4 linked regions of the Homo sapiens genome follow. The protein of the gene in region 1 interacts with the protein of each later gene in a pairwise test. Each region holds a gene or a part of one and is shown in the gene's direction. Other genes may lie near its edges.

Region 1 (7,423 bases):
AAGACACACAGCCAGGGCTGTGGGACACCCACATGTAGTGTTGGGGCCAGGCCTGTCCCCACTGCCAGGGTCTTGGGGGTCCTGTTCTCAAAGCACCTCTGTGTGCAAAAGTCACCCCCTTTAAACTCTGAGAAATTCCTCCTGAAGGTTCCTGTTTCACATTTGGGGGAACTGAGACCCAGATTGAGGTCACACAGGGACTCACTGGCAGGTGGGGATCGAGTCTAGGTGAGACTGGGTTCAGCAGCCTGCCTCTGTCACTCTCTCCCACAGCCTCAGCCAGCATAAAAGGGAACATAGTTACTTAATCCCACAGCAGGCGAGGTCAGGTTATAGGGGCTGTGTGGCGAATCCCAGGAGGGAGGATGGAGGGGCCGACCTGAGGTCCAAGGTTCCAGATAAAAGATTAACAAGTACGGATTGTTCTCAGACGCCCGGCTGGCCTCACAGGCTGGGAGGATGAGAATCCACCCGGTCAGGCTTGGCCCCCTCCGTACATAAGGCCAGGGAGGGAGGAAGCGCAGCTGCAGCAGGTGGCCAGGCAGAGGCGCAGGCGCGGCATGTGGGCTGAGGGCCGCTCAGGCATCACACAGGTGTGGCCCTGAGGTACCCATTGGTCCTCTCCACCTGCCCCTGAGCCGTGGGAGGGCCAGGCAGGGCCTCGTGTGTTTTTATTTTGTATCTTGTTTGCATCAAATCCGTTTTCTGTTGTTTTTCCCTCTTCTTTAAGATTTACATGCAAAGGGATCTAAAGGGTGCCAGGTAAGAAATGCCCCAGCACTAGGCTGGCAGACCAAGGGCAGCCACAACCATGGGCTGGGGAACAGCAGGTGGGTAGGATGGGGCTGGAGGGCAGGACGGATCCAGAGAGGCAAGGCCTCTGCCTCCAGCTTTAGGGAACAGACATCCTCAAAGACAGCTGGGGTGTGGGGTCCTCTGCAGGGGTGAGGCACAGGAGGGCCATCTGCAGGCAGCTGGGAGTTCATGAGTATTTGAAGCAGGGGAGGGGACAGGGGACAGATGGGATCTGCCTCTCATGCATCAGGCATGGGGAGGGGCTCAGGAGGTCAGTGAGGGGTGGCCCTGGGTCCCCTGGGAGTCCGGGAGTCTCTGTGTGAGCAGGACTTGGCTGTGCGGTGGTTAGAGACAAGGGTGATCCACCAGCTCCATCCTCATGCCTTGGTGATTTCTTGGAATGTCCCTGGGAGTTGGGTGCAGGTAGAGACTTTGTAGACCATAGCTCCTGGCACTGTGCTGCCTGCCTGCCCCATCCTGGCTGTGAGTTCGCTGTGAATCCTACGGAATCCTGGCTGTGAGTTCGCTGTGAATCCTATGGAAAGGGCTACCCCAAGGGGACAGGAGTCCAGCCTCCTACTCTTGGCACTGCCATCATGCAGCCAGGGGCCTTGGGCAGGTTTGTGGGCCTCAGTTTCCTCATCTGGAAAATGGAGCCAGCCCAGAGAAAGTGTTTCCTGGCCTCCCAGGCTCAGGAAAGGAGTACAGGAGACCCCACTGGGGCCTGGAGGGTTGAAGGTCCCCTGTATGCTGCAGACCTTGGGGATCAAGGGCTAAGGGCTGAAGTTTCCCTGTGTTCCATGGACCTTGGGGATTGAGGCCCAGGGCCCCAGTAGGGCTCATGTCCTGGGCTGCTCAAGCCCTGACCTAGGGAGTGATCCTGTGCACCAGATCCTGCTCCAAGATCTCCATAGGGCAGTCCTGCTCTTCCCAGACCCCAGGCGGGCAAGTCACCAGTTTTGCAGACGGGGAAGTTGAGGCTGAGCCAGGTGAGAAATTCAGGTCCAAGACCTGCTGCTGGGATGGGTCTTGTCAGGATCAGACCCCAGGAACCTACTGGTTAGCCCTCCAGGAAGCCTGCCCACCCAACTGGGGGCTAAGAGGGGGCATTGCCGGTCAGTGGCTTCTCTTTCTGTGGCCCCTGCAGCAAGAGAGGCCACAGGAACATGACTTTGCCTCCCTGTGCCCCCTTGGCTGAGGGCTTAAAGGAGGTTGGACCTCTTGGCCACCCTGAGGAGGCAGGTCAGGGCTGTGAGCCTTGAGCAAGGACTCACCCTACCCTCCCTCCTACCAGTTACTTCCCCCAGACCCTCTGCTTGACTTATAAAGGAAAGCCATTCCAGCAGTGCACTTACATTAGGACCTGGGCATGAGACCCTTCTTCTGGTCAGCTGGCTACAAATGCAGGGTCTGAGGCCAGGACTGCGTTTAAGGCCCCCCAGCCCCACCAGGCACCATCCTTCTCTGCTCATGGACAGTTGGGCTGGCATCAGTTTTACTGGGCTTGTATTCCAAATCGTTCTATACTTTTATTTGAGTTTTTAATTTGACGGCGCATCCCGGACTTCTTGTAGGTCAGTGTTACCTCGCTGGCTGGTCCCCTTTCTTTGGTTGTGGGTGGTGACTTCACCTTTTTTTTTGAGACAGAGTCTCACTTTGTCAACCAGGCTAGAGTACAGTGCCGTGATCTTGGCTCACTGCGGCTTCTGCCTCCTGGTTCAAGCAATTCTCCTGCCTCAGCCTCCTAAGTAGCTGGGACTACAGGTGCACACCGCCACGCCTAGCTACTTTTTGTATTTTTAATAGAGACAGGGTTTCACCATGTTGGCCAGGATGGTCTTGATCTCCTGACCTTGTGATCTGCCCACCTTGGCCTCCCAAAGTGCTGGGAGTACAGGCGTGAGCCACCGCACCCAGCCGACTTCACCCTTTATCCCCCACGTCTGTGAGGCTCAATGATGCAGGCAGGACAGGCTCTGGGGATGCTGGGAAGGGGATGCTGGGAACAGCTTGCCTGCTGTTGATGCCTGTCACTGTGACATGTAATCCACCACCTGCAGTTGCTGTCTGAGGACAAGAGCCCTCACTATAGCAGAACCTGGCGGCTGAGAACACAGGATGTGGCTTTTGGCAGATGAAGTGTGAACCAAGACAAGACCTTGGTCGACCTCAGACATAGCTAGGTGAGAGCCGACTGGTCAACCTCAGACATGGCTAGTCATGAGCTCCCCACAGGGCTCAGCACAACACACGGGCGGGCAGGGGGAGGAGCTGCTCCTTCTAAAACACACTTAGAGGAAGTCAGCTGTGGAGGTGGCCTTGCTGGGATGATCATCATTTCATCCAGTCCTCGCCCCACCCTGCCTGTTGTGGTATTTGTAGGTGGAGACACAGGCCCAGGGTGGAGAAGTGACTGGGGTCTTCTGGAAAGGCCGGGCCTACCCTCAAACCCAGGTCCTCTGGCTCCAGAGCTGGTCCTGGCTGCCTTGAGTGCATGGGAGGCCCTGGCGGTCACATCCGTCTTGTTTGAGAGAAAGCTATGTCCCCGCGGTGACACACAGTCTCAGTAGAATAAGTCCTAGGGATCAGCCCAGTGCCCAGACCGCTCAGCAGTGGTTAAATGTCTGGGTCCTGGATGGGGAGTGGTATGGCCACCCCTTCCCTGGGACCCTGGTGGGTGGGAAGGGGATGTGCCCAGGGGATCAGTTACATGTCAGCAGTGGGGATGCTCAAGGTCTTCCGCCAGCATTTTTCTTTTGAACGTGCAGCAGAGTTGAAAGAATTTTATGCCTGGACACGCACCAGCTTGATTCCACCCTTCGCATTTCGCTGTGCCTGCTTTCTCACATCTGTCTCCATCCCTTGGTCCACCCCTCCAGGCATCTCATTATTCTAATGAAGTTCTAGTTTTATTTTTAAAGAATGAATTCACGTTCATCCATTCATCCTCTCACTGGGCAGACACTCAACCAGGCGCTGTTGTGGGTGCTGGACACACTCACCCTCGCCAACCTCTCCTCCCATCCGCCAACGGCTACTCCCAAACCTCTGGCTGGTGGGGCCTCCTCTCTGCAAGGGCCGCAGTGGGCTGGGAAGCCACAGAGGAATGCAGAAGTCGCAGCTCTAAATTAAGGACTGGGAAGTGTTGGCTGCCTGGCGGCCCTGGGGAGGGGGCCACGTGGCCAGCCCGTGGCTGCCCTGCTGTGTCTGCCAGGGCTCCAGAATCCCATAGCCACCTCCTTGGCCAGAAGGACAGTGCATATACAGATCCCAAGATCCTGAAAAAGCAAAGTGGTCCCTGGCCCTTGGGGAGTGCTGATCACGACTCTTGCCTGTGAGGTGAGGCTGCCAGTCCTCCATTCCTTTGTTCTTGCATTCATTCATTCACTCATTCCTGCACTGATGTCTCCAGATATGGAGCTTGGTAGTTGACGGAGAGCCCAACCCTGGAGACAGAATTCAAGTCCTAGCTGTGCCACTGGGAGCTAGGTGACCCAAGGCCAGCGAGAGTCAGCCCAGGGTTATAGGAAATAGCCCAGGCCAGGGGTTAGAGCTGTACCTGGCACACAGGTATGCTCAGCGTCAGCTGTCATCCGCCCAGCATCCCTGGGAGGTTCTGCCTCCTGCTGATCTCAGTCCTGCCCACCATGCCCTCCATCCCCCTGAAGGGCAGGGCAGCTCCTCAGGCCCTCCCCACTCTGTGTACCGCCCCTAGAAATTGTGCACCCCTCCTCTGCAGCCTCCTCAATCTGAAGGGCTGATCTTTTTAACCCTGACAGAGATAAGAAGCAAAAAAAGTATCTTCAGTTGCTTTTTCTTTTTTTGGAGATGGAGTCTCCCTCTGTCGCCCATGTTGGAGTGCAGTGGCATGATCTCAGTTCACTGCAACCTCCACCTCCCAGGTTCAAGGGATTCTTCTGTCTCAGCCTCTTGAGTAGCTGGAACTACAGGCGCACGCCACCACGCCCAGCTAATTTTTGTATTTTTAGTAGAGACAGGTTTTCACCATATTGGTCAGGCGGGTCTCAAACTGCTGACCTCATGATCCGCCTGCCTCAGCCTCCCAAAGTGCTGGGATTACAGGTATGAGCCACCGTGCTCGGCCAAGTATCTTCAGTTTTAAATGTGTATTTCTTTAATTGACATATTTTCCCCCTGATTTTTTAAACAGCTTTACTGGGCCATAATTCACATACCATACAATTTACCTTTTTAAATCATAGAACTCAGTAGCTTTTGTACATTCACAGATATGTGCTACCATCACTCCAGTCAATTTTATTTTATTTTATTTTATTTTTTGAGACGGAGTCACTCTGTTGCCCTGGCTGGAGTGCAGTGGCACAATCTTGGCTCACTGCAACCTCCGCCTCCCGGGTTCAAGCGATTCCCCTGCCTCAGCCTCCTGAGTAGCTGGATTACAGGCGTGCACCACCACACCCAGCTAATTTTTGTATTCTTAGTAGAGATGGGGTTTCACCGTGTTGGCCAGGCTGGTCTGGAACTCCTGACCTCAGGTGATCTGACCGCCTTGGCCTCCCAAAGTGCTGGGATTACAGGTGTGAGCCACCATACCCAGCCACTCCAGTCAATTTTATAATGTTTTTAATCACTGCATAAGAAGATCCCATACCCCTTAGCAGCCATCTCCCAGTTTTCCCTTTCCCCCAGCTTCTGACAGCCACTAATCTGCTTTCTGTCTCTGGATTTGCCTGTTCTGGACATTTCATATGAGTGTCATCATATGACATGTGACCTTTTGTGTCTGACTTCTTTCACTTAACACAGTGTTTTCAAGGTTTATCCATGTTGTAACATGGATCAGCACTTCATGCCTTTTGATGATTTAATAGTACTCTGTGGTGTGGATAAACCACATTTTGTTTATTCACTTATTGGTTGACAGACATTTAGGTGTTTCAGCTCTCTGGCCATTACAAATAATGCTGCTGTGAACATTCGTGTACCCATTTTTGTGTAGACAGGTATTTTCATTTCTCTTGGCTGATTACCTAGCAGTGGAATTACTGGATCATGTGGTAATTCTGTGCTTAACTGTGTGAAAAACCACCGGACAGTTTTCCAAAGCTGTTGCACCATTCTGTTCCCAAACTAGTAGCTTCTGAGGTGCCAGTTTCTCCACATTTTTCCTAACACTTCGTATTGTCTGTCTTTTTTTTTTTTTTTTCTTGAAACGAAGTCTTGCTCTGTCCCAGGCTGGAGTGCGGTAGCCTGATCTCGGCTGACTGCAACCTCCGCCTCCCAGGTTCAAGTGATACTCCTGCCTCAGCCTCTCAAGTAGCTGGGATTACAGGGGCCCACCACTACGCCTGGCTAATTTTTGTAGTTTTAGTCGAGACAGAGTTTCACCCTGTTGGCCAGGGTGGTCTCAAACTCCTAACCTCAAGTGATCCAGCCACCTCGGCCTCCCAAAGTCCTGGGATTACAGGCGTGAGCCACTGCGCCCAGCCAGCTATTGGTATTGCCTATCTTTTTGACAGACTTCCTTGTGGTTTTGATTTGTATTTCCCTGAAGGTTAATAATTTTGAGAATCTTCTTGTGCTTATTGGCTGCTAACTTATCTTTTTCAGAGAAATGTCTGTTCAGATCCTTTGGCCATTTTTCAATTTTGTTGTCTTCTAATTGAATTGTAATAATTCTTTATATGTTCTAGACACATGCCTCTTATCAGATACATGATTTGCAAGTATTTTCTCCCTATTGGTAAGTTGTCTTTTCACTTTATTGAATGTCCTTTAAAGCACAAACATTTTTCATTTTGATGAAGTCCTGTTTTTATTTTTCTTTTGGTGTTTGTCTTTGGTGTTAGATCTAAGAAACCATTGCCTAAGTTTACAAAGATTTTCCCTATGTTTTCTTCTAAGAGTTTCATAGTTTTAGCTCTTACTTTTAGGTCTTTGATTCATGTTAATTTTAGCATATGGTATGAGCTAGGGGTCCAGCTTCAGTTGTCCCAGCATCAGTTTGTTGAAAAACTATTCCTTTCCCATTGAATTGTCTTGGTACCCTTGTTGAAAATCATTTGACTATAAATGTAAGGGTTTACCTCTGCACTCTCAGTTCTATTCTGTTGGCCTTTATGTCTGTCCTCATGATAGTACCACACTGTTTTGATTACTCTAGCTTTGTAATACATTTTGAAATTGGCAAGTGTGAACTCTCCAACTTTGTTCTTTTTCAAGAGTGTTTTGGCTATTCTAGGTCTTTTGCATTTCCATATGAGCTTTAAGATCAGCTTGTTGATTTCTGGAAAGAAAGCAGCTGGATTCTGATAGAGATTTTGTTGAATCTGTATATCAGTTTGGAGAATACAGTAGATTCAATGAATACAGTAGATACAGTGAATATAGTAGATACAATGTATCCAAGGGGGATACATTCCAGGACCCCTCAGTGCATGCCTGAAACTTCAGATACTATATATGTTGTTTTTTCCCTAAACACATGTACCTATGATAAGTTTAATTTATAAATTGAACAGAGTGAAAGATTAATGATAACCAGTAATAAGTTATACCAATTATAACAATATATTATAATAAGAGTAATGTGAATGTGGTCTCTCTCTCTCTAAATATCTTAATAGACGGTACTCACCCTTCTTGC
Region 2 (7,134 bases), on another chromosome or scaffold:
TCATGCTTCTCCCTTCCTGCTCTCTGTACTGCAATCACAGCCTTCTGACTTCTGTTCCAGTGCACCAGATATGCTCCTGTGATGGGAGTTTTGCAGTGCCTATGCCTTTCACGTGGGAATGCTCAGTCCCCACTATGTTGTTCTGCACCCCCAATTCATTCAGATCTGTGCTCAATATCTCCTCCTCAGAGCAGCCTTCTCTCACGATTGATCTAAAAGAGCAGCCCTCATCCCTGTGTTCTGTCTGCTTTCTTGCATTTCTTGTCTCTTAGCAATATGTGACATTATATTCTATATTTGTTTACTAATGGACTGACTACCCATGAGAGTAGCAGCTTTGTCTCTTTTGATAGCATAATGCCTTAAACTGTATCGCTTTAGAAACATTCAGATATTTATTGAATGGATGCATTTATTGAATGAGTAAATGAATTACTATACCTAACCCACATTCTTGTTTCAGTCATATCCTGGTAGGATCAGTACAGATTTGACGAGTGAACAGAGTATAGAAACCTAAGGAGAAGTGCCTTTTTTTTTTCAAATGTACTTGGCAACTTTGGAATTTTCTTCTCTGTAGTTATGGTTGATAGTAATTGACTTCTTGTTAGTTTTAAGACATTTAAAACATGAAAGCTCCCTTTTCCTCACAAAGGCAAAGAGCCAACTGGGCTTTTTTTAAAATTAATGCACATTTTAGCACTTACTAACTGGAAATAGATGAAGTGTGGGTCATACAATATGCCGTCAGCTGAGTCCTAACAACAACCAAAACCTTTTCTGAGAAGGTCTGATTTCTATTTTGGATATCAGTAGGGTATCCTCTTATACAAACTTACTTGTGTATCCACTCTCAGTAGTAATGGTAGGCAAAGTGCTGACTCAGCAGTGTTGTGCTACACGGCAGAAATGTTGGGTGTTTTTATATCTAGTTCTAGGTCGGTCCTTTGACACCTAGCCAGAGCCTTATAGAAAGAAATTTTGAGGAATCATTTCCTCATGAATTTGCTGTATTTCATCAGTTTTATGGGAGAGAAAGATGACTGTTATGTAGACTTTCTAGGAATCTTCATCATACTGGTAATAATCTTTTACATGGGCTAAAAATAGATGAGAGTACATTTTAAAACATAAAATTCCATTTTAATTAAACACTCTATCCATCCTAGTGTTCTTTTTTAAAACATATAAGCGATATCAAAACTATTTATGTATATAGTTTTACTATGTCAGTTTGTTCCCTCCTTTTCTTTAATTATTCACATTTTTGTTCTTTTCAGATGAATTAAACAAAAATTATTTTACCCCCTAAAATTATTTCATATATCAGAGGTTAGCAAACTTTTTTTGTTAAGGGCAAGAAAGTAAATACTTTTGGCTTTGTGAGCTGTGTGGTTTCTTTTGCAGCTTCTCAACTCTGCCATTGTTGCATAGAAAATACGTAAATGAATGAGTGTGGCTGTGTTCCAGTAAAACTTTTTCAAAAACAAAAAGCAGACCAGATTTGGTAGTTTGCCAACCCCTGTTAAATATAACTGTACTCTGTATTTTTTAGGGAAAAAGATTGTCTATTTCTTGAGGGTGGAAGCTGTCCTATGGTAGAGAATGAAGCTGTAGTTAACTAATTGTAGTTAAACTAATTAAAATAAAATTACATAATAATTGATCTAATAGGAAGTTAAGAATTTTAAGTGGAAGACATTATGTCTTGTGCATATCCACAACATAAATTTCATTTTATTTTAGATAGTAGAAACAACACAAAACAAAACAAAAACAAAATAAACATTCCCTTCCTGATTATTTTGGTTTATTTTATTCGGTATGACTAATCATATTTCCCCTTTGGCCCTGACAGAAGTAGGATCTAACCAGGGACTAAGAGCTAAGTTTTGACCTCTGTTACAGTAGCCATAATTGGCCTAGGTTTTCCTGTACCATTATCTCTCTTGCCTTTATCGACTTAATTCTTTTTTGAAAGTAGGTGGAAAACAGATATGAAAATATCATCTGTTAATAACTTTTAAGCCACTTTTTAAAGACAAGAGGCATAGAGTGGATGAGAAGAAAATAATGAAAGTAGCTTTGGATCAGAGTAATGTAAGCAAAGACATCATGGTGAGACTTTCTGGCATATTGGGCTGAGTTAGTATTGCAAAGCAGCAACAACATCAAAAGCACATTATCACTCACAGGATGACCAGTTGCATCAGTAGAAATTAATTTGAATTTCCTAATTCCTTAATAGCATAAATAAATAACAAGAGTTTCAGTTGGCATTGGGGTCACTATTCTTTTTTTTTTTTTTTTTTTTTTTTTTTTTTTTGAGACAGAGTCTGGCTCTGTCGCCCAGGCTGGAGTGCAGTGGCATGATCTCAGCTCACTGCAACCTCCCCCTCCCTGGTTCAAGCGATTTTCCAGCCTTAGCCTCCTGAGTAGCTGGGATTACAGGTGCACACCACCACACTGGGCTAATTTTTGTATTTTTAGTAGATACGGGGTTTCACCATGTTGGTCAGACTGGTCTCGAACTCCTGACCTCATGATCCACCTGCCTGGGCCTCCCAAAGTGCTGGATTTACAGGCGTGAGCCACCGCACCTGGCTGGGGTCACTATTCTTGAGGAGCTACTTATACGGTTTATTAGTGGCACAATTTAGTTTAACTAGTACTACTTGCCATAATAATAATGATAATTATATTTTTAAGGTGAAAATCACTACTTTGTATGCTCATATAAATTATTATATTGCACTAATTATTTTATCTATACTAATAATGATTTACTAATTAATAGGATAATTCTTATATATTGGGAAAAGGTATTTAAACAAAAAAATTATTAGTATTTTAAAGTATACCATCTAGAACAAGCCATCTTTAAAATTTTTGGCTTTTATGTATATTTGATTACAAAGTTACTCTCATACATATATAGTTACATATTTATATTATTTTATTTGCTGCAAATAACATTTTCTAATTTTGATTTGCTTTTCTTTCAGTTGTTTTACAGGTTTGCAGCCTGGTCCTTTACCCAATCAAGTTCATTGAAACTGTGAGCTTGAAAATTTACCATGAGTTCAACTGGGGTTATGGCCTGGCCTGGGGTGCAACTATATTTTCGTTTGGGGGTGCCATCCTTTATTGCCTGAACCCTAAGAACTATGAAGACTACTACTAGAACCAATAGTCTCAAAGTAAAAACAACCACCACCATCCAACAAAAGGATTACGTCTGCATCTTTTCTAACTTACTATTTTCTAAAACACTTGTGGAGCATCAAGCAGTTTGCTCAGTTGATTTAATCTTTTTTGCCTTTTGGCTGTCAACATCATAACCAGCTTTTACATCCATTTTAGAAATCTGCACAAATTAAGAGAGCTGATTAGACATAGGCAAATGCTGCAAACTTCCAATATGTTCATATCGTTTTTCTTGACAAATGAAGGGTCTATATGACAGCAACCATTGTGAGAAACTAGTTGGAATGAGATTTGCCTCAATCTCCTATTGCCTGCAGGGGAGCAGTTGGCATAAGCAACATTTAGAAGTTCCTTTGCGCTGACAAGGATTCCACTGTTAGAGCCCTTACCGCCTGCTTATCCTACCCAATGACTACATTGGCTGTTGGTTATTTGCTTGAGTGAGCCCTTGAAAAATGAACTGCCCTTCAGCATCTAATGGGAGTTGTGAATGTAACTGGTTAATGATACACATTCCACCTTCAGGAACACTCTTTTTAATGGGAGGTTATGCTTTGGCAATCAGCGTCTCCCTGGGAAGAGAGTCAAGACTTGGAGACATGTGCTTCTCATTATGTGGTTAGAAATTGGTGCCTCAGCCCTATCTAGACTGGGGAAAAATTGAGGATCTCTGTTTTTCCTGGGGCAAACAGAAAGAAATCTGCATGAGTTGCTTTTGTACCCTTTAAATCATTTGCCAAACATTGCAGCAAACAAGTGTGCGTATGTAACAAGCTTCACTGTTTTTATAGAAGGTGAACCATTAGTATAAATGGTAATAAGTTGTTCCCTAACCCTCCACATACATTTGCCTATCACACGTAAAATTAATATTTACTCTAGTGAAGTGGTTTGAGCACTAACCTTGTACACATTGTTAAGAGGCTTAGATTGGTATTCATACTTATTTACCATACAAAAGTATGGTACCTTAAAGCTTTTGCTCTATGTTCTTTACTGTTTCACTGGAAAGTGTCAATAGAGTTGCCTAAGAATAAAAATTGAAATGGTGTTAATCTGAAAATTAATGATTCTCTGTAAGCACTGTAGTTGAAAAGAGAGTAGCAATTAGGATGATCATTTTGTGTAAAATTCATTAAAATAGAAGGCTGCTATTTTTTGCAAGTATTTTAAATGTCTTCATTTTTTTAAGAAAGGAATAGCGATAGATTTATATAAATATCTAAATGTCTCAGTAGAGGAGTAGAATTCATCTGGTTATCACCTGGTCCTCTGAAGTTAACTGATGGGCTAACCGATTTGTGCACACACTTAGGATGGATTTATGTTAAGGGAATTACTTACTGACTGTTCAATGGAAGGAAGTATTAATAATAGGGAATAAGTTTGCAACTAATCTCATGCTGCAAACTTGTGTTAATTCTGTTTAATATACAAATTTGGATAGCTTAATTATAAACATATTTTTATATCAAATATACAGTTCTAATATAAAAGTTATAAATAATTATTTTTGTTAACAAAGACACTAAAACAGTATGTTCTGGTTTTGGCCCTCTTGCAGAAAGAAGCATTAGAAAAATTACTTTAAAAGTAGCTATATGTTACTGTATTGCAAAATCTGTTAAGAGCAGGACCACATCGATAGTATTTAATAATTTGTTTTACCTCCCAAAACACAGTTCTTCTTTCAGCTTGTCTTAAGAATGGTTGCCAAAAACAACAGCCAAAAAAAAAAAACCTATTTTATTATCCAAATGCTAGAAAACACACATGAATTTTCTATAAAATCACGAATATGAAGTACCAGGTTTAGTCTTACTTTAGCAATGATAGACAAAAGCGAATAAATACATCACAGACAGAAACCTTTATAAAAATATATGATTCTATAAAGAATCATTAGAAATTATGAGTGGAAATTCTCCAGAAAGATAGTATTATAGAGTCTTTTGAAGCAATTTTTTGAGAAATAGTAAAATCTGGGGCAGAGTGTCTTGCAGTTAATTGCATATTGTCAGAGCAGCATGAGAAATATGATATTTGGATAGGGATTTCAGCAACTAAACATTCTCTGTTCTGAGATCTCTTTATTCCTGAATAATGAAAGAATAGTACTTTGGTGCTGACACCAATGAGGCACTTCTCTTGGTCCTAGTAGAGGATGCAGTGTACTGTTAAACCAATATCATCACATCTCGAGTCTTATCAAGTTTTCATTCTCTGTCAATATGACAAGCTCAAAGTGACAGAATATGTTATAGGTTGAAGCACACATATTTGCAGTTTACTGAAAAGTAGATTTCTTATGTGACTTTTTTCCCTTCTCAGCAAAGAGCCCTACACTAGATTTCTACCATCACTAATATTTGGAAGTATTTCATTACTAACAATCTCAGTACAACATGAAAATTGTTGCTTCTCATCTAAAATACAATTTTGTCTATCAGAATAAACACAAGTGAAATTTTCACCTACATTAACATTATGTCTTTGCAGCTTTAGGTTTGTTAGATGTGTTCTTAAGCATAATTTTTAGCCACAAACCCATTGTTAGATAGATATCTATGGATATAGATCTACATCTATAGATATAGATATACACACATATATATACTCACACACATATAGCATAAAATACTCAGCAGGGCTAGTTATTCCGATTTCTTGCACAATTATTTAGCTTTTTGTAAGTTCAACATGTAAATTTTAAAGACATAAATATAGAGAGACTTATGTGTTTGAATATAAATGATATATATGGATTAGCATGTACCTGTATATTATTAAACATGCAATGAACTGACTGGTAAGTGACGTCTAATTGTATGGCTAGCAATGTAATTTATTCAGACTGTATTTTTGTACAGAGCAGTGCACTCTAACCTATGCCTCTGTGTCCTCTTTAATGCCTAAAGCTGTGCCTAGAAATTTCATCTGTCTTAAAAGTAAAATATACTTCATGCTGTTTATGCTATTAGTTTCTGTACTGCTATTCTATATTTATTATTTTTAAATATATGACATGTTTACTACTTAAACATGAATTCATGGTATCCTGGTTATTTTTTTTAAGTCATCTGGGGGAAAACCTGTTTATCACTCCAGTGATTTTGAGTTTGCAGTTTCACAATCAGTTCTTCATTTCATGATTTTTGTAGTTGACATGAAGTCATCTATGTGGAAAAAAATAAAAATAAAAGTGATTTCACGGATGTGGTTTGAATTTGTGTCGTCTCTGTTGTGTAAACTCTTTAGACAACGCTTCTAAATTACATATATTCATTACATTTTCTCCTTCAAAATATATATTATTTAGAAAACATCTTAATATGACATGCTGATTTTACTTGAAAACATTTTTAAATTTTTTATTACAAATTATCTCCCAAGATCCTTCTATTCTCCACAGCCTTTGCACGGTCAGTGATAAAGGGATACTATTAAATATCTTTTATAACCTTCTGTTTTAAAATGTACTCAAAGGAGATGTAGTGCAGGCTTCCCTTATTCCGACTCTAATCACACAATTGGAAATGATTAGTCAAAGGGTTTGATATGGTATTTTGTTCTTTGTGTAGTTTTCAACGTTTGCAGAGTGTTAAAGCCAGCTTGTCTGTATTATCTCTTAGAAAGACTAAAAATTCAGTGTGTATGTGTGCATGAGTATGTGTGCATGAACGTGTGTGCATGAGCATGTGTGTGTGCAATGTGCATGTGTGAAGAAACTGATAAAGTCAAAATTCATCACCCTTTGATGTATATAAATGGTGAGAATATGTGAAAAAGCAATTTAAATTAGACATTCAATAAAATTCACTTGCATGTATGCCAATTTTTTTTTTTCCTGAAAAGGAGTCTCACTCTGTCACCCAGCCTGGAGTGCAGTGGCGCAATCTCAGCTCACTGCAACCTCTGCCTCCCGGG
Region 3 (7,538 bases), on another chromosome or scaffold:
TGTTGTTTTTGAGACGGAGTCTCGCTCTGTCACCCAGGCTGGAGTGCAGTGGCAAGATCTTGGGTCACTGCAACCTCCACCTGGGTTCAAGCGATTCTCCTGCCTCAACCTCCTGAGTAGCTGGGATTACAGGCACCCTCCACCACGCCCGGCTAATTTTTTTGGTATTTTTAGTAGAGTAGTTTGGTATTTTTAATAGAGGTTTTGCCATGTTGGCCAGGCTGGTCTCAAACTCCTGACCTCAAGTGATCCACCTGCCTTGACCTCCCAAAGTGCTGGGAATACAGGCATGAGCCACTGCGCCCAGCCAGGATTATCTCTTAATCTTCATAACAACCCTATGAGGTCAGAAGTATTGTTATCCCCACTTTACAGATGAAGAAGATGGCGTGCAAGAGGATTAAATAAGATGCCCATGGTTACGCAAATCATTAGTGGCTGAGATTAGGAGGCAGGACCCCAGGCCACTAGAGCTCAAGCTCTTGACCAGGGAGGATTCAGGTTTTGAGAGGCCTGAAGCTTATGCATTTTGAGGGGCTTGGTTTTTTTCAAAAAGCAACAGACTCTTTAATGTGGTTTAAAATACATCCAGATCAAGTCCCCGGCTGTTGTGAATGCCGAAAAGAGACAAAAAAGCTGCCGGTGCAGCTTCAAACAAGTCTGAGCGTCAGGCTGGCCCATAAGGAAAGCAGTTGCAGGGACAGGAGGCAGCCCCCTCCTCCAGGAAGGGCAACAGGAGCAGCCGGGTGCCTGCCTGTCCCTGGGGTGACCGCCTCTGTGCTGTGCAAGGCGGGAGGGCTGTGGCAATAGGCCTTGGACCTCCCCCATGGACACCAGCGAGTTCCCCTGGCCTCTGGGTCAGCCCTCAGCAGCGCCGCCATGATGGGGTGGAGGAGGGTTAAATAACCATCTTTACAGAAATAATATTCTCCTGCAGAACGTGTCTGAGCTCAGACCATTGTCCAGAAACCTCATAGAAAACAAACAACAAAGTTTTTTAAAGTGCTGCTGACACCTCTCAGAATCTGGTGTGCATAGAGCTCTCAGCTGGACGAGACCTGTTGGTCCTTAAACTGAGGTCACCTGTATGGGACCAGCCTGGGTGAGGAAGGCTCTGGCCTTCACTCACAGGGATAGGCCACTTCTTGAGGGGCTTTCTTGAAGAAAAAGCACGTCAAAGAAATATTCAGCAAAATTTACAAAAACGTATGATTGTGTGAACATATTGCCGGGCCCTTTCCCAGGGCCCTGGAAGGAACCGTGCAAGTGAGGGGCTCTGAAGCTTCAGCTTCAGGAGTTTCATGATAACTCTGCCTCGGATCTTGACACACATGCTGGAAACAGATAAGGAAAGGGAAGAAGGAAGAGAAAAAAATGTCAAAAATAAAGAGGAAGAGATAAAAGAGAAGTAATGGGAGGGAAAGAAGAGAGGAAAAACAGGAGGAGGATCTAAAGAGATGGATGGGCAAGAGAAAGAAGCAGGCAGGACAGGGCTGAGGGAGAGCTGAGGCTTCCTCCGGGAGAATGGGGGTTCTGGGCCGGGTGCGGTGGCTCACACTTGTAGTCCCAGCACTTTGGGAAACCAGAGCGAGTGGATCGCTTGAGCTCAGGGGTTTGAGACCAGCCTTGTCAACATGGTGAAACCCTGTATCTACAAAAAATACAAAAATAAGCCAGGCATAGTGGCTCACACCTGTAATCCCAGCTACTTGGGGGACTGAGGCGGGGGAATCCCTTGAGCTCAGGAGGTGGAGGTTACAGTGAGCTGAGGCTGCACCACTGCACTCCAGCCTGGGCAACAGAGGGGGACCCTGTCTCAGAAAAAAAAAAAAAAAAAGAATGTGGGTTCTGGTCCAGCTGGTTTTCCCTGGCACCTGGGAGAGGTGGGCCTCTGTTGTCTCCAGGCCACTGTGCCTCCCTCTGTAAACCTTCACCCCCACCTGCAGGCATCACAGCCACCCTGCCCAGTCCTGCTTATGTGCCTTCTTCCCGGACCTCTCCACAAACTCCCAGACCCAAATGGGAGCAGAAGCCAGGAGGGCTGAGTCATCATCCCTCCAACCAGCCATGCCCAGCAGCCTTCATGCCCAGACAGCTGCCTCTTTCCTGGTTCATCACCTGAGCACCAGGTAAAGCAATGCAAACCTGTGGGCCAGATGTTTAGCCTGGCACATAGAGGAACCAAGACAACTGAAAACGTGGCTCCCAGTGGCCCACTGGCTTCTCACTGCCCTGCTGCTGGGGAGGTGCCTGCCTGGACCATCACGGCCCTGACCCTGAGGTCACCTGAGATCACAGGCTCTTGCCTCTGCCCAAGACTTCCAACTCTCAAGGCCACCAGCCATCAGTAAGGAAGGGCTGGGGCTGTGCTGGCTCCAGAGCCCTGCAGGCCAGCTTCAGATCTCTGCTGCTCAGAGACAAGTCCAAGGCCACACTGCATTCATCAGCTGAGATTTGGCCAATAATCCATTACACAGATCCGGTATTCCTCCTGCTCAGACATCACTGGGGTCCTCCATGGGCCATATTATCCCAAACCATGAACCTGGGGCTTTCAAACACTTGTGTTCCATTCAGCCTGTTCACAAGCCTGGCAGTGTGAACCAGTAAGAGAACCAGGTTCCAGCCCCAACTCTGCCCGAAACTACTTCATGTCCATAGGCTATAGTTTCCTCAGCTGACAAATGGGAACAAAATATTGGGGTTGTTGTTGGAGAATTAAAGGGCTGATACACAGAAGCACGTTATCAACAGAAGGACAAATACACACGTCTAACCCAGGCTGGTCTCCTGGGAGGGTCAGGTCTGAGAAATGGAAGGAGATCTGGATTCATATGGAACCAGACACTAATTCATTATGTGACTTTGGGTCATTGACTTTGCCTCTCTGGAATTTAGTTTTGTCGCCCACAGAATGGGGGAACAATGTGGACAATTATCCAAGTCTCTCCCAGCAAAATATCTGTGGCTGTAAGGTTTCACCTTGCACATCCCCTGGCCAGGGGGCAGCTCCAGCTATCAGGATGTGGCAGAACGTGAATCAGAAATGATCCTGTGGGGCTGGGTGCGGTGGCTCACGCCATAATCACAGCACTTTGGGAGGCTGAGGCAGGTGGATCAGTTGAAGCCAGGTGTTTGAGACCAGCCTGGCCAACATGGCAAAACCCCATCTCTACTAAAAATACAAATTAGCCAGGCATGGTGGCGCACAACACCTGTAATCCCAGCAGCTACTTGGGAGGCTGAGGCAGGAGAATCACTTGAACCTGGGAGGTGGAGGTTGCAGTGAGCCAAGATCGCGCCACTGCACTCCAGCCTGGGCAACAGAGACTCTGTCTCAAAATAAAATAAAATACAAAAACACAAAACTTAGCTGGGTGTGGTGGCAGGTGGCTGTAGTCCCAGCTACTCGAGAGGCTGGAGCACGAGAATTGCTTGAACCTAGGAGGCGGAGGTTGCAGTGAGCTGAGATTGCGCCCCTGCACTCCAGCCTGGGGGACAGAGAGAGACCCTGTCTTAAAAAAAGAAAAGAAAAAAAGAAAGAAAGAAAGAAGGAAATGACTCCGTGGACGAGGAGACGTGGGCTCTAGCCAGAGCACCAATAGTGATTTTCAGAATATTGAACGGCTGCTGAGGCAGGGGCAGGAAGCACTAGTACATTGGCTCTGTGCAGGACAGCTTCACTTCTGGGATCCAGGGAAAGGGGGTACATCTTACCTCCCTAAGAGAAGAAACTCCCTCCTTCTCTGTGGACTTTCCAATCCTATTGCTCCACACCTGGCAATGATCTCTTTGTACTGAGCTGCAAACCCTGTCGCCCAACCCCCAGACCACTCCAACTTCCCACAACCCCAAACCAAAGCACCCACACAGTGAGAAGTCATGCACCTAGAAGGTAGGGGGAGGGGGGGCGGAAACTTCTGGCATCACCCTCAGCCAACACCCAGTTGGGTGGAAGTCATTCAGGCGGGAAGGCTTTTGTTACGCCTTAGGTGTGTCACCTGTTCTGAGGCCGAAGGTCCCATGAATGACTTCAGGTGTTGTTCCAGCCCCTAAGATAGGTGTCAGGTTACAAGACACATAATCATTCCAGTTTGGCAACTTCACTTGTAGGGCTGTTTTAATCAAGCTGCCCAAAGTCCCCCAATCACTCCTGGAATACACAGAGAGAGGCAGCAGCTTGCTCAGCGGACAAGGATGCTGGGCGTGAGGGACCAAGGCCTGCCCTGCACTCGGGCCTCCTCCAGCCAGTGCTGACCAGGGACTTCTGACCTGCTGGCCAGCCAGGACCTGTGTGGGGAGGCCCTCCTGCTGCCTTGGGGTGACAATCTCAGCTCCAGGCTACAGGGAGACCGGGAGGATCACAGAGCCAGCATGGTGAGTGTGGGGCCCTCTGCTCCCAAGACACAGGAAGGGTGGGTCTCCCCATGTAAGGCCCTTCAAGCAGCCTGAGCATCCATCAGCTGAGAATTCTGTGACACCTTCTAGGTTAAAAAAAGAGGCCACACCCAAATCCCCTCACACCCCAGCCCGGTACACGTCTCATACCCACCTGCCTTCCTCTCTTCCTCCATTGCCATGGTCCTTGGACCAGCTCACCTAAGAAGCTGAGCACAGAGCCAGGGCTGTCCTTCCCGACTATTCTTTCCTGAATCCTGCATGTTCTTTTGCCCAATGTCTCCAGGTCTGTTGGTTAGAGGTTGGCACTATTTTTCCAAGGCAGGGGGCTGTTCTGATGCCACGGTTGCCCTCTGCCACTCCCTGGGGAAACTGATTCCTTTTCTTTTTAAAGAAAAGTGTAGACTGGGTGCAGTGGCTCACGCCTGTAGTCCCAGCACTTTGCGAGGCTGAGGCAGACAGATCTCTCGAGGTCAGGAGTTTGAGACCAGCCTGGCCAGTATGGTGAAACCCCATCCGTACTAAAAATACAAAAAATTAGCCAGGCGTGGTGGCAGGTGCCTGTAATCCCAGCTACTTGGGAGGCTGAGGCAGGAGAATCGCTTGAACTTGGGAGGCGGAGGTTGTGGTGAGCCAAGATTGTGCCATTGCACTCCAACCTGGGCAACAAGAGTGAAACTCCGTCTCAAAAAAAAAAAAAAAAAAAAAAAAAAAAAAAGAAAGAAGGAAAAGAAAACAGTGCAGAGATGCCTCCAAACAATCTAGGGTGTTTGTGGTCATCTTTTACTTGGTCTCTTTTCATGCCCTCACCCTCTCTCCTCCTCCTCTGAATACCTGGAGCGTCTTCGCTGTCTTGGGGCAAAGAGAATCAACCCTATCTTTCAAGGAGGACAGCTGAGGGCCAGGGAGGGGAAGAGATAATAACTGGGTCTGAGGAGGAACCCAGGGGTCTTCCTTCTCCAGTCCTTGGCCAAGAGGCAGCAATTGCCCAGCCACCAAAGTGAAAGGGAAGGGAAGAGAGGAAAGGAGAAGCCACTGTCCAAGGGGGAAGGGTGTGACCTGCAGGGGCCCCTCGAGTGATTGTCTCCTATTCCCAACCTGAGCACTTCCCACGACACTCTTCTGAAAATTCTGGCAAGAACAATTCTTAGTGCGGTTGTAGCTGATGATCAGAAAGGGGAAGGGGCTTCCCTTTGAGCCAGGATCAAAGCACAAGCTTCCTGCTTTCCCATCCAAGGAGGCGCCCCAAAGTTTGGCCTGTGTGCAGAGACGCTGTATCCCCTGGGGCTCCCAGGAGAGGAGAGCAGCTGTGGAGTCTACCTAGCTGTGAGCTGCTTCTGGGTGGCAGGCACTGAGGAGACCTGGGGTGTCTCTTGGGGGAGCAACAGAGAAGGGAATCATTTCTAGGGCAGGTCACTAACTGCAGAATCAGAAGGCTGAGGCCAGCTCCCTGATTAGCTGTGCTGTCTTGAGGCATTCATCTTCCCGAGACTCACCTTCTCCCCTGCCCACGGAAACGATATGACCCACAACAGCCCCACGCACATGCACCGGGTTCGCAGAGATTACACAGCTAATACATGTGAGTAGGTTCTGGAAACCATGAAGCCCCGCACAGATGTAAGGACTTAGGACTAAAGAGGAGTCTGTGCTAGGAAATGACAGCTGGGTAGTACACCCAACACAGACCCTTTGCCACCAGGGAAGGAGCTGGGCATTGCTGGAGGAGCGGGGGAGGGCAGGTGGGAACACTGGTGGAGGGGTCAGGTCAGGCCTGGGGCCCCAAAGGCAAGGCAGCAGCATGGCCAATCTCCACGGTGTGGTCAAGGAAGTTTCTAGCCCCGGAGCTAGCCATTATACTGCCTGTGCTGAATAACCCTGTCATTAAGCCTGTGCTTAATAACCCTTGACAGCCATAGCTCCCAGCCCTGAGGGGAGGATGGGATCTCCACACCCAGGCTCAGCCCTCCCTTCCCTTCCCTTCCATTCCCTACCTCCTTCCATCCCCACAGGCCCCTTTCTGTGACAGTCAGGGTCCTTTGAGCTGCTGCGTCTTAATGACAGCTCTCCCAAGAACCCATTAAGCTGGGTATTCCTAGGGAGAGCTGGAGCAGGGACTCAGGCCCAGGCAGAGGTCAGAGCCCAAGCCCTGTCCCCGAAGGAAATGTGTCCCATGCTAACTACTCCATAGCTGAGGCCTGGAGGGAAGTCAGGGACCCTGGGACTGGTTATCCTGGCCTTGACTCATTACTGTTCCGGAGACCTAAACGCACCCTGAGCCACCAGACGTGGGTGTTAACACCTGAGGTCAACCCCCTGACGCTTCCGGCTGCTCTGGAGGAAGCTGGTCCTCCCTCCCACCTCCTGTTTTCCGTGCCAGCCTGGTACAGAGTCAAGGGGCTTGGCTGGGCTTGGCTGGGCTCAGAAACGTGGCAGTCAGGAGCCAGCCTGCGGGCAGCGGGGTGCTGGGAGCACTGCAGGGTCCACCCTGACTGGGGCACAGAATCCAGAAGCCCACTCGGCCCTGGCAGTGCCATCCTAGGCTCTGAGGTGGTAAACTGAGCTGGGCAGTGGGAAGGTCCTAAAGGGCAAGACAGGCAAGGAGGGGCTGCTTGCTTTGCCTGCTCTCCTGGATCCTTTGCCACCTGGGTGACAGGGCCTGGTGTCACTGTAACCACTCCCCCCCCACCAAAAGAAGCTCCAGCCAGACACCATTTAATCAGCCCCTTTCATTGGCCAGCCTCTAAATGGGGCTGGGGATTGGGAGGACCCAATACCTAGGTTTCACCCTGCAGGTGCTCAACACAGAGTGTGACAAGTATAACACCAGCAGTGGTTACAAGGTACCCCTGGAGCTGAAAAAGCAATAGATTCTCTCTAGGGAAGTCGGGAAATTGTCCTGGAAGAGAAACTATTTGCATTGGACTCTGAAGGATGGGCAGGCTCTCTCCAGGCAGGGAAAGCAGGAAGGAGCTCCAGACACAGGGGACTGCATGTGTGAACAGCAAGAAAGAGTGGTAGTATAGGGACAACAGGCTCTCGCTGTGGCTGGAGCAAAGACTCCGGCACTCCAGGTCATGGGAGCTGCACCTGCCGAGGTGGAAGCTGCATCCCCAGGCCCTGTCCATCTCCCAGGGCGC
Region 4 (7,131 bases), on another chromosome or scaffold:
TCTCAGCTCACTGCAACCTCCGCCTCCTGCGTTCAAGCAATTCTTCTGCCTCAGGCTCCCAAGTAGCTGGGATTACAGGCACGTGCCACCAAACCCAGCTAATTTTTGTATTTGTAGCAGAGACAGGGTTTCACCGTGTTAGCCAGGCTGGTCTCGAACTCCTGATCTCAGGTGATCCGCCTGCCTTGGCCTCCCAAAGTGCTGGGATTACAGGCATGAGCCACTGCACCTGGCCACTTTTTCTTTCTTTTTTTTTTTTTTTTTAAACATAGACTCTATTAATTGCTCTCTTACTGGTCATTTCACACCTGCAATGAAAAGCAAAAATACAGTCCCTTAGGAAGCCCAGGGCTCAAAAGATTCCAACTAGCTCTTACTTAAAAAAAAAAAAAAAAGTCCATATAATTTAAAAAAAAAAAAAAAAAGGAAAAAAAAAGATCTCCCATGCACCAGGGTTCAGATCACCCAGTTCCTAAAGCCCATGGCCTTACCAGTTAGGGGGCAGCTGGTGATGCTCTGCAGTGGTTTGAGATAACCTTCTGACTGGGTTCTTTCCTTCATTAGGTTTTGTTTGACCCACAAGCAGAAGCAAGCCATATACGGGTGGCTGCTGGGTGGTCAGGAGCTGGCTGGACGTGGCTGTCTCCTGGGAGTACTTGGCAGTTTCTTTTTTCTTTTTTTTTCTTTTTTTTCTTTCTGTCATTCAGGCTGGAGTGCAGTGGCACAATCTTGGCTCACTGCAACCTCTGCCTCCCAGGTTCAAGTGATTCTTGTGCCTCAGCCTGCTGAGTAGCTGTAATTACAGGTGTGCAGCACCGCGCCTGGCTAATTTTTGGTAAAGACGGTTTCACCTTGTTGGCCAGGCTGGTCTCGAACTCCTGACATCAAGTGATCTGCACACCTTTGCCTCCCAAAGTGCTGGGATTACAGGCGTGAGCCACCGCACCTGGTCATGGCCACGAATTTCTGAAGTAAGAGAAGTGCAGCAGTCCCTGTCAGCAGTGCAGACCTGAACCCAAGGGCCCAGCAGTGGCAGCTAAAAAACCTGTGTCTGCACTGACAGCACCCCACTCCCACCAGTGTACCAGGAAGTTGGAGTGCTGACTGCCTGGTCGTGGCCGGGTGAGCTCCAACGGAGGGATCCTGCGGCTTTGGGTGCGTCTGTGTGTGTTTTGGTTTGAACCTTACCGTCTCCATATAGGGTCTGTTGCCTTATAGAATCCTAGAAATCCACTTCCCTAGACTTCACGTGTTGTCCTTTCCCAGTGGAAACCGAGATTCCCTTTGCCTAACTGGCTTTAAAAGCAGAATTGGTGAGCCTCTGGCCTCAGCGCCGTTGTGCAGGACCCTGCCTTTGTTTGAAGGCAGTGTGGCTTATGTCCTTTGTGTTTCTGCTGTGGATAGGTGTCTTAGACAGTGGGCAGCAACAGTGCCCAGCCCATATGAAGACGCCGAGGCTGCAGGAGGCCGGGGCCATGGTTTGACAGGCAGGTGGGGGCAGACCCACGCCACCATCTCAGGATGTGTGCTGGCGAGTGCCCCCATGTCCACGTGCTTGCTTATGGCTGTGTCATTCACAGGACTGCCCACAGCCGAGGGCAGAGGATGCCCAGTCTCCTCACTCCCTGTGCTGGGGGGCGGGCCACACCTGGCAACAGCAGTGAGGTGGGAGGGAGCCTGGAGGGCCTTGGCTTCTCGCTGCTTCCAGGCTGGTTGGGACTCGTGGACGCACCCACCCATCCGTCCCAGCAAGCGATGGAGCCTGCAGAGGGGTCTGGGTGGATGTGGGTGCCAGCTGGGCTTGCAGGGGGGCCGGAGGGGGTGAGGGGGTGGGATCTGCCCACTGCTGTGTTTCCAGATGGGGCAGTCGGTTCCAGGACCGGGGTTTCCACTGGAATTTCCTCTGTGGGACCAACAGTGGTTTTCACTACATTCAGGATGGCGCTGGCCTGCTGGGCAGAGAAAGGTACCGCACTAGGGTGGATTTGGGTGTTGGCGAGAACATTGTGTAACCCCAGCTTGACACCTCCCTTTTGCTTTGAGTGTTCCTGAGGGAGGAAGCCCGCCTCTGGTGCCCGCCCCAAGGTGTCCCTGGCCTGGCTTTGACAGTCAGTAGGATGCACAGCTGACTTGGAAGCAACTCCATTTCCGTCTCAAGATTGGGACACGATTTGGTCCTCCACCCCTACCTTGTTATCTGGCCTCTCTGCTCCTGTTGCCTGATGGACTTGAGACCAGAAGGGAGTTCTCTTGGCCAGGAGTGCTCCCACCTGAGAGTGGAGGCCCCGCCCCTCCCCGCACACCCAGGGCCACAGCCAGCCCATTGCGCCACCGCCACTCATTTCTCATCTGAGCACGTGGGGGCACTGCTCGGCCTTCAGCTTTCCAGCGCCAGTGAAGACCCTGCTTTGGGTGTGCTTGTTTGCTGTAGGTAGCTTCTAAAATGCTGCATCTGGCTGGATGCGGTAGCTCATGCCTGTTAATCCCAGGACTTTGGGAGGCCAAGGCGGGTGGAACACTTGAGCCCAGGAGTTCGAGACCAGCCTGGGCAACATGGCATAACCCCATCTGTACAACAAAATTTTTTTAATTAGCCAGGCAGCCAGGCGTGGTGGCACATACCTGTAGTCCCAGCTACTCGGGAGGCAGAGGTGGGAGGATCTCTTGAACCCGGGAGGTCGAGGCTGCCATCAGCAGAGATCACACCACTGCACTCCTGCCTGGGTGACAGAGCAGGAACCTGTCTCAAAAATAAAAACTGTTGAATCCTACCTGGAAGTAACAGCTGGCCTCTCCCTTACCTCTCCTCTAAGACCAAATGGAAAAACTCCACCGAGAACTTTAGAAGGAAAACCCTCCTTTCCCCATTTCATAAGCTGCTCGTGCAGTCTTACAGTAACAGCTCATCATTTCATCCCTGGCGAGGCAGCCGTGACACTGGCACAGTCACAGGTGGCTTGGCAGCAACCCATGTTTAGGAGGCTCTTGTCCCACCCTCAGGGCACTGATTTCTCCCCAGTGCATGCCGTTTAATTAGGGCCTATGATTGAATTAGGAGGCTTTGCCTTAGCCTGGCTTAGTTACAGTGACTTTTTCAGGATAAAGAGTTCCGTTTGCCCAAGTCCAAGCCAGTGCCTTTTATGAAAGTGGTTCCCACCCAGGGGCGGGGTTAGGGTCCCCATGCTTGGGGGCACAGTCAGCCCATTACCAATGACTTTCATCTTTAATGTGGCCACATGAGATCGTTAACTAGTTGTTTATCCAACCAGAATGCAACCCTGCCTGTTAGGTTTGCTTATTTGTTTGCTGAAAGCTTTGAGCTGGGAGGAGTCTCAGTAGTAGGAAGAACTACGATTGCCTGTTCTTTTTCCTTGAAGTTTCCCGACAGTCCGATTTCCACCATCCTTCACTTGGAATTGCTCCCATCTTTGAAGGAGGCTGGAGGGAGTTACCTTCATGCTGGGCTGAGGTTCTGGGGTGGCTTGTTATGAATGTCTTCACTCGTCACTCCCATATTACGGCCAATGGCCAGGTGGCTCAGCTCCCCATGACTCTCCTCTGCACCGCAGCCAGGTGTGCCTGCCAGGACAGGCTGGGCGGACGGGACCTTCGCGTCTGTGCACACTGAGGGCTGTGCTTCTCGTTAGCCATGAAAGGAAGCTAGTTCCTGTCAGGCACATTCGGAGCTTCAGGTACATGGGCCACATTGACCCTTGTGTTGCCTGGTACAGTGTTCCAGAGCCTCCCAGTTGGAAGGGCATGGACTCCAGCAGGGGAGCAGTGACCAGCAGGTCCCTGGAGCCTTGTGTCCTTTAGTCAGATGGGTCCGACCATCCTGGGGACCAGGGTGTGCTGAGGGAAGGGGCAGCTTTTCCCTGAGGCATGTGACAGAACATGGCTCTGTGCAGCCTTGGGAGCCATGAGTTGGAAAACTTGATCCAGCCTCAAGAGCTATGTCTAGCAGTGTCCCCGTCAAGGCCCAGATAAAGACTTCTTGCAGATGAGCAGATAACGGAAAACTAGGATGTGGGGTGACGGTGCGGAGATTCAGAGAGATCTGTCTCAGCTGAAACCAGCCAAGGAAAGATGACAAGGCATGGATAGCCCTGTCTTCAGGCCTGCCCGCCACAGGTGAAGAAGATTCTGCTTTGGGTGGGAAATTTGTACCGCAGAGGCCTGAAACCAAGAAAAGCAAGACTGCCTGAAATGCAGCTTGGCCCACGGTCACTGCTGGGGCTGCAGCCGGGCTGCCGTCTGGCCTTGCTGCAGAGCTGAGCGTTCCGTGTGGTGGATTACTCTCCTGCTGGTTGGGGTCATGACATGCATCCCCAGTCCCGGGGGGGAAAGCCCCTTGTGTGGTCTCCGTGGCAGTGTTTCTTATGCAAATGAGTGGCATTTGCCGGTGGTGCAGGGGCCTGGGCCTACAGGGCCAGAATTGGTGGCATTGCTGGGCTGGATGTTTTGAAGCCCCTCAGTTGACCCTCCTGCTTACTAAATTTGGAGCCCACTACTGTTCTTGAAGCGTTGTCTTTTCCTAATTCAAGGAAAGGGTCGCTTTTCCTATGCAGTGGGCTAGTGTCCTGGGTCTCCTCTTCTCCCCTCCGCAGCGGGGAGGAGCTGGGGGCTGCTGCCGGCCCAGGAAGGGCACCCAGGGCTTGTGCAGCCTGGCCTCCAGGAGAGCCAAAGGAGTTTGGATTTCATTCGCCCAAGGCAAAGCTCTTCCTTTCTGCCTCTGTTCTGCAGGCCCAGGATGACTACTTAGGAAACGTGCGGAGGGCAAGGGCTTAGCATTATCTGTCCTGAGGTCTGTGGTTTCCAGTGAAGAATCCTCTTGCAGTTGCCCTGATTAACTAAGAATGGCTTTCAGGCTGTTGGCCCTCTGCTGCCGTGTGTGCTCCTGTGATTCTGTGCCGAATCGTTCTTTCCCCTTTAGGCTCCTTTGCTGACTCAGATCAGTTGGTCCACAGCCTTAGGCTAACCACCAGGCCTGTGTTTGTCATGTTAAACGTCGAGGCACTGCTTTTCCTGCCTTTTTATATCTTTTTTTTTTTTTTTTTTCTGAGACTGAGTCTCGCCCTGTCACCCAGGCTGGAGTGCAATGGCACGATCTCGGCTCACTGCAAGCTCCGCCTCCCAGGTTCAAGTGATTCTCCTGCCTCAGCCTCCCGAGTAGATTACAGGGATTATAGGCATGCGCCACCACACCTGGCTAATTTTTTTTTGTATCTTTAGTAGAGACAGGGTTTCACCATGTTGGCCAGGCTGGTCTCTAACTCCTGACCTCATGATCCGCCCCCCCGGCCTCCCAAAGTGCTAGGATTACAGGTGTGAGCCACCACACCCAGCTTTATTTCACTATTTTCAGGAAAAATCCTTTTTACTGATTATCTTGTGTTGGGATTTAAAGGAGATGAGGACCCAAGTGAGATGTGCTCTCCGCAGTGCAGGCTCAGACCTCCCCCAGCGCTGAAACACAGTTAAGTGCTCCTCAGCCTAATCATCCTGTCTCTCTCTCTCTCTCCCTTTCCTGCCCCCTCCATCAAAAGGGTGAGCTTGTCGGCCACAGACTGCTACATTGTGCATGAGATCTACAATGGGGAGAATGCCCAAGACCAGTTTGAGTACGAGCTGGAGCAGGCCCTGGAAGCCCAGTACAAGTACATTGTGATTGAGCCCACTCGCATTGGCGACGAGACAGCCCGCTGGATCACCGTGGGCAACTGCCTGCACAAGACGGCCGTGCTGGCGGGCACCGCCTGCCTCTTCACCCCGTTGGCGCTGCCCTTAGATTATTCCCACTACATTTCCCTGCCCGCTGGTGTGCTGAGCCTGGCCTGCTGCACCCTCTATGGGATCTCCTGGCAGTTTGACCCTTGCTGCAAGTACCAAGTGGAGTACGACGCCTATAAACTGTCGCGCCTGCCTCTGCACACACTCACCTCCTCCACCCCGGTGGTGCTGGTCCGGAAGGACGACCTGCACAGAAAGAGACTGCACAACACGATAGCACTGGCCGCCCTGGTGTACTGTGTAAAGAAGATTTACGAACTCTATGCCGTATGATTTCAGTAGAACAGGGAGCGAAGCAAAACCACCCGGCCCACAAGAGACAACAGAGTATTCAGATCGCCACACTCTGTGAGGCAGCAGAGCCTGGGCAGGTGTTTGGCTTAGTATTTGTTATTTTTAAAAAATAACAGATCACGGGTGTACCCAGGGTTTTTCAGCTCATTACACTAAGATGTGGATTTCCATAACCCAAGAGGGGGGTCTGAGGCTGTGGAAGTCCGACTGGGCAGTGGAATGCTGATGGAGGCAGACGCTGCCGAGGGGGTGTGGACGTGCTTTGGGGGAGGTCTTTAAGTCTATTGTTTAACTGTACCATCCAGAGCCCACCAGAAGCTATTGATCATTAAAATTATGAGAATTTCAACTCCCGCTGTTCTCTCTTTCCATGACTGCCCGCAGCTGCTGCTGCACATCTGCTCTGGGTGGCGGCTTGCACATGGAAGGAGCAGGTGCCATGGTAGCCACCCTGCCCTGCTCCTAGCTGCGGCCCAGTGTTACCACTTACAGCGACGACAAGCCTAGATCCAAGGTAGTCCTGGGGCCAAACCCCGCCCAGGAGCAGTCTCCTGGCTCACCTTGGCCTCATCATTCCGAAGGCCATCACTGCCACCATGCTGTTCAGGAACATGGTAGGATAAGGTGACGAGGCTTGGAGGCCTTTGGGTGTCCACTTGAGTTCACGTGGGGAACTCTGGGCTCCAGGATCGCTCTTCAGAGATCTGAACACCTGTGTTTTCTTTGAAGCACCAAAACTCTTCCTACTGTGGACCATGAGTTTATTAACCCATTGCCCTAGGCTGACAGAAGAGCCCTCGGAGCAATCTTGGAAGCACCCCCTGGCCTCAGTGCTCGCTGTTCCACAGGAGCCAAGCCGGTGCTTCTCCCTCACACCAGAAGGTAGACTGTGTCACCTGCCACATTTCCTCTAAGGCAGGGGTGGCCAATCTTGACTTCCCTGTGCCACATTGGAAAAAGAATTGTCTTGGACCACACATAAAATACACTAACGACAGCTGATGAGCTAAAAAAAAAAAAAAATCACAAAAAAATAATGTTTCAAGA

Evidence for each region.
Region 2: the proteins of SUSD3 (region 1) and TMEM47 interact in binary tests that used the Homo sapiens proteins (3 or more experiments, as listed by UniProt).
Region 3: the proteins of SUSD3 (region 1) and TMPRSS4 interact in binary tests that used the Homo sapiens proteins (3 or more experiments, as listed by UniProt).
Region 4: the proteins of SUSD3 (region 1) and TMEM11 interact in binary tests that used the Homo sapiens proteins (3 or more experiments, as listed by UniProt).

What each region holds. Positions count from the first base shown.
Region 1 is NC_000009.12:93,061,632-93,069,054, forward strand, and holds part of SUSD3 (sushi domain-containing protein 3), read left to right. Parts: intron 1-729; exon of another isoform or gene 730-1,784; intron 1,785-2,855; exon of another isoform or gene 2,856-2,978; intron 2,979-6,470; exon of another isoform or gene 6,471-6,520; intron 6,521-7,403; exon of another isoform or gene 7,404-7,423. UniProt on the Homo sapiens protein: May play a role in breast tumorigenesis by promoting estrogen-dependent cell proliferation, cell-cell interactions and migration.
Region 2 is NC_000023.11:34,626,363-34,633,496, reverse strand, and holds the end of TMEM47 (transmembrane protein 47), read left to right. Parts: intron 1-3,005; coding exon 3,006-3,184; 3' UTR 3,185-6,422; downstream 6,423-7,134. UniProt on the Homo sapiens protein: Regulates cell junction organization in epithelial cells. May play a role in the transition from adherens junction to tight junction assembly.
Region 3 is NC_000011.10:118,072,929-118,080,466, forward strand, and holds the start of TMPRSS4 (transmembrane protease serine 4), read left to right. Parts: upstream 1-4,149; 5' UTR 4,150-4,374; coding exon 4,375-4,377; intron 4,378-7,538. UniProt on the Homo sapiens protein: Plasma membrane-anchored serine protease that directly induces processing of pro-uPA/PLAU into the active form through proteolytic activity.
Region 4 is NC_000017.11:21,197,256-21,204,386, reverse strand, and holds the end of TMEM11 (transmembrane protein 11, mitochondrial), read left to right. Parts: intron 1-5,546; coding exon 5,547-6,063; 3' UTR 6,064-6,433; downstream 6,434-7,131. UniProt on the Homo sapiens protein: Plays a role in mitochondrial morphogenesis.